Linked DNA regions of Homo sapiens: region 2 is linked to region 1. The links come from fine-mapping of genetic effects on gene expression. Tissue or cell type: whole blood. Region 1 holds a variant in brackets; the other region holds the start of a gene. All regions are shown on one strand. Distances are between the middles of the regions.

Region 1 (2,766 bases):
AAGATTTTCTAGATGTATAGTCATCACTAAATGCTTAAGAAGTCATGAAATAAAAGGGCAAGTAGCTTGACTGTCATGAATTTTCTTCCACAAATGTTGACATAGTATATACAAAATTAGCAGTAAGTCATTGTCTATTACTTATATTATGCTTCTTGGATTAGTTTTCAAGAGAAAAAACAGGAGCAGACATTTCTCATGAGGAGTGCACACTTGAAATGCACTTGGCAGTAGGCAAACGAGAAGATAGTAGCTGATATCATATATGCATTGCATCTGTTCACAAACACTAGTGGCATCATTTATGTCAACCTTTTACATATTGAAAATTGCAAAGACTCCTGCTGTGCTGTTTCTTTTGAGAAGCCGGCTGGTATATAGTGTTTAATTAAGTATTTTAAAGCCATCTTTTCGTAGGCCTGTTCCACTTTAGCAAAAGTTATGACAGCTTGTCTCTGTTAGTTTAAAAAAAGAAGGCATAGTTTATTCTCTCTCTCTCTTTCTAACTCTCTCACAAATATAGAATATTAGTATTTTTAAGTAAAATAGCCTATTTTAGAAATATAGAAATATGTTATTTTAATGTGCTCTCAATGTAAATAGGCATATAAAAGAATAATTTGATGGAAACAATCCCTTAGTATTGTAATTATTTTAATAATTATAGTGCACTATTGAAATAAAAACACATTTCCTCTTTCTCTGCCACTTTTTTGGTGTAATGGGACATTCAGAGCTTGAAAGAAACCACCACATAAGTAGTCATTTCATCTGTATCTGTTAAATGAATTGCTTTTCCCAGACATCTAATTTATCCAGAGAACATCTCCTTGGTCAGTATTACAAATTGTTTTTATTTTCTTACACTTGCTTATTAATAATTTTCCATGTCATGTCTGTCATCAGAGAAGGAAGGTCACATTCAATATTTCTCCATTTCTCTTTTCTTTTTTCCCACTCATACTCTAGATTGAAAACTTAGCTAAGTAAAAACAATTGGTTCAAATCTTATTTGAATTATGGACACATTATTCTCAGTAAAATAAATCTTGAGTTTAAATCCCATTATCTTGTGTAAATTTTTTTAATTCAATCTTGGCAAAACATGCATATTTTAAAGATATGACCTATAATTTTTTCTCTTGACTTTTGTGTTTGGCAGGAGTTCACAGACTTTGCTAACAATTTTAACAGATATGCTTTAATTTAATAACTACAATTTGGTAATTAGCTGGAGTCGCATTTCAAAATGCAATTGATATGATTTGGCTGGATTTATCTGTATTCTAGAAAATACAGGACAGTCGTATAGATACTGGTGTTGTTACTCTGTTCATATTCACACTTTTACCTTGCATCATTCCTGAGACACAGAATTTTTGATATTCTGCCACAATCTATTCCCAAAACATCACTGATGACAAAACGATAATAATCTTTGGAAACATTTCCTCTCAAGTTCCAAAGTTTTCAGTCAGTAGAAAAAAAAGAAAGAAGACAAAATTTTAAAGGTGCTGAGAAAAGCCCAGGGCTCACAGCTGGTTTCAGCAACTTCAACTTGCGTAAGACCCCGTGTTTGTGAAAACAACCCAAGAATCTTT[G/C]AACAGGATGTAATCAACCTCCGAACTGCTGAGAAATATTGCAAAAATGACTTCAGCTGCCAAAAATAATGTCGTTTACAAGCAGCTCTTCCTATGTCTAAGGAAGAACTAGTCACACATGCGAGTTTTTGCTGGCTTGAGAACAAGCAAGGAAAAAGACAAATCCCACCTACCCTAGCCTAAAATACACAGTGAGTCTCAGAACCCCGCGGAAGCTGTGGCTCATTTCTAAAGGTGCTGGCAATATCGAGGAAGACTTGTATCCACAAAATTCCAAATGGTAAGTGACCCAGGACAGAGGGATTTTATTTGGCAGCAAATCTGTGTTGCCACTTTCCTTCCGTTGCAAAGCTTCCCTGTCTTGTGGAGGCAGAGCTGTTAAATACCTCTTAGTCACTAGCTCCAACCTATTTTTTTGTTTGTTTGTTTTTCTTTTCAAAATATTATCTGGCACCTTCCCTTAAAGGACATCAAGGGCTCTGGAGGAAATATTTGCAAATGATCCTTTATAGAAGTTCCATCACAAAAGCCCGGCACCTACCTCTGTCAAGCTTTGGCTGCTCAGTCCGCATGGGCTGGATGTGAAAAAAGATCCCAGTATGATGCCTTCTCTAAATTTACCAGAAAGAAAGGACCTGGGATGCTTGTCCTTTAAGTGTCTCTAAACATGGTTTGCATAGCTGGATCTCAGCTTATCTGTGCCTTTCGGCTTTCGCTTCCATACATGGATCTGTTCCCAACAGTAACTCCAAGCTGTCGAAAAGAAGCTATCTGGCAGCTCTCTGCTTCATCCAACACATGGATGATAAAAATACACATATAGCGATTCTTCCAGCCAGGCCCATTTCCCACCACATGATCCTGTCACTATGCTTTTTTTTTTTTTTTTTTTTCCAAAACACTTTTGAGATTGGCATTTCTACTCTCCAAATATTTAGATCATAACCAATTTTTACCTGATTCCCACATAAAGCTTTTAGGGTGTGGGTTCGCCTAGCTTTATGAAAACAGAGAGACAATTATGGTTCCTTACTAGAGTCTTCATCCTTAAAGATTCTAGTGACAGCATGTATATGGGACCTGTGAAATGTTTAATGAATGAATGAATTTATAAACGAATGGCTGAACAGATGAATAACACTGTATGTGAATGAAAAACTACGTA
Region 2 (2,766 bases), 60 kb before region 1:
TGTGTGCACGCGCGCGCGCTGGTGGGGGCATGGGAAAGAGAGGTATACTTTCAGAATTCTCTCCTGGTGGCTCCCTCTTTCCCTTGGGAAATCTTCGCACAAGTCTCAGATTGTGCATGTTCAACTGCTCATATCTGGAGATACTCCAGCAATGCCTTTAACCAGATCTGATCAGAAATCTCCACCTACTCAGCTAGAGGCTCCTCCATGATCAGGACGCTTGTACTGTCTTCACCACATCTGTCATTTTTTAAAAAGCTTCTTCCACTACACCTCCCACTGATATCCTTTTTTTCTCTTTTTAGTCTTTACACCTCCAGCAGGACAAAGTTTGTATTGTTATATTCACAACCACTAGTAGCTGACTAGCAGGAGAGAGAGAGAGCGGCTTCAGGAGAGCCAGGTTCGGGGGCTTCAAAAGGATACCTAGCGCAAAGCATGACTTTCCAATGACTGCGTACAACATGCACATTGCTCTCTTCTAAAAATGCTTTGTTAAATTTCATCACCCCTGTTCTCAACTCAACCACTACCACTTTGGAGAGGGAAATACAAATTGCCAGCCCAAGCCATTCATCAAACAGCAACAGAATCCACGGGGTGGTGGGGGGGATAGAGAAGAGGCGGGGGTGATGCAGGGGGTGGATTTAAAGAATCAAGGATGCACACGTACTGTATTTTCAAGAGCATCGCCTGGGCGGATTTGGTTTCTTTGGCCGGCTGTCCAGCTATAAGACCGCCCTCTTCTTCATTAAGGAGGAGCCAAAAAGGATATCTTCACATCTCAGAACACAGACCATTTCCCCCAAGAGCCAGCAAAGCTCCAGAGGCAGAGAATGCAGCTGCAAAGTTCCCTTCCAATCTCTTGGGGAAAGATGCCTGTGTGTGCAGAATCCCCAAAGCACACCACGGCACAGTGCCCAGAGACGTGGACCCCGCAGCCCACTCCCTGCTACCCCCTACATTTCTTCCTCGTCTGTCTCTGCCCCGCCACACCTCCCTCCTCTCCGCAGTCCGTGGTGAATGAGCACCCAACGCCCGCTGGAAAACAGGGGGCTCGGAAATGTGGCCTTGGGGAAAGACCCCAGGGATTACCGGAAGGAGGGATGTCCGCGGAGAAGAGTCCAGTGGGTGGGGACGCCTGGATCCCCAGCAGCTCTGCATTCGGGGTGGACTTAGCTCTTCGCGCCCTGAATCCTCAGAGCCCAGCGCGGTGCAGGGTGCAGCATCTCTCCTTAGCAGCCCTTTCTTCCTCCGGCAGCCTGCACTGGCAGGCAGGCAGGCACCCTCACGCCCAGACGCACCAGCCCGAGCAATTTCACTCTGGGAAGCGCGGACACCCAGAAAAATGTGCAGGCGCGCACACACCACATCACACACACACACACACACACACACACACACACACACACACACACACAAATTTAGAAGCCGCTCGTTTGCCAAAGCAGAGGGAAGTGTAGCCTTATGAGCAGCAAATGGAAAATAGTTCTTGGTCTCTGACTAAATGCCTTCTGCCTGTCCATCATAAGATCCTACCTGGTTTGGGGAGTGTGAATGGATTCTTCCTCCGTTCCTCCACGCTAGTAGAAAATACGGCGCACTCCCTCCTTTTAAACAGCTCCCGATCAGGAAGAGGTCGCTCCCATCTTCTGTGGGAAGCACAAAGCAGGCGGCGGCGGCGGGCTGACTACCGTGCAGCGCCGGCGCGAGCGGGAGCCGCGGCAGCGGGCAGCGGTGCGCGCGGGCGGGAGGCAGGCGCGGAGGCCGGGAGGCTGGGAGGGCCGGGGCCCGGGCGCGCGCGCGCTCCCCCTCCCTCCCGCGCACACTCGCCCGCCCGCCGCCCGCAGCCTCGCACTCGCTCACACGCGCGCTCGGCCCCGCGGCTGCCGGGCGCCCCGGGGCCCCCTGCGCGCCCCTTGGGCTCCCCAGGCGATCGCGTCGGGGCAAAGCCGGCGCGTTTCTGGAGCACCGAGCGGGTGGGGAGCCCTTCCAGCCTCCCAGCCTCTGCCGGCGAGCAGCTTTTTCGATTTCCTGCCGGCTCTCGGCCCCGCAGTGCGTTGTGGCCGCGCGCTAGCGCTGTCTCTCGCACCCAGCCCATCGATGACACGCGCACACAGGCGCTGCAACTTTTCTTTTGAACCCTCTTCTTCTCTTCCGCAGACAGAACCCTGACCCCCAATTCGCCTACCCGTTTCTCACCTCTGACTTTGTTAATCCAACTATCTTTCTTCCCTCACTTCCTGCCCTTCTGCTAAAGGAAGCTTTCTTTTAGCAAAAGGATCTGGGCATATATCAATGATTTTTTTTTTAATCCTCACCCTGTGTTTTTCTACGTATCAGATATGCACAACTATACGTTGGCTACTAGATGCTGACACAAGCAAACAGAGATATTCGGGGGAGGGTGTCCCCCGGCCAAGAACTGGGACAGAGTCTCTGTGTTGGTATTTCCCTCAAAGATGCGTTTCACCTGGGAATAAAGACCCAGAGTCTGTTTCGTGTGAAAGGCGTGCTGGTTTTAAACTACAGTGAGGAGTAAAAGCCGAGCATTAAGGTTGAGTGGGAAAAAACCTAATGCAGCAATCGACGAACCATTCTTTGCCCTTTCCAAGAGAAGCATTATCATTGCCAATAAATCACTTTCCTCATAATTAATAAAGGAACACTGCACCAGGCCTTTCCTCTCTTGACAGCTCATTCATTCTTACAAACCCTTAATGACTTCACGTGGTGAAAGGCTAGACCTACTGTGGAGTTCACTAG

The links. PIP is the estimated chance that this variant, and not a neighbour inherited with it, causes the effect.
Region 2: it holds the start of SLC8A1, and the variant in region 1 is fine-mapped to the expression of SLC8A1 in whole blood (TOPMed, PIP above 0.99).

What each region holds. Positions count from the first base shown.
Region 1 is chr2:40,510,207-40,512,972 of GRCh38, forward strand. LOC101929667 (a long non-coding RNA gene) reads left to right here and starts at 1,716. Exons shown (of 5, transcript XR_007086295.1): 1 at 1,716-1,881. It also overlaps a transcript of SLC8A1 not described here. The variant G/C (reference allele first, on the strand shown) is at 1,602.
Region 2 is chr2:40,450,365-40,453,130 of GRCh38, forward strand. It overlaps SLC8A1 (solute carrier family 8 member A1), which reads right to left and starts at 1,726. Exons shown (of 11, transcript NM_021097.5): 1 at 1,540-1,726.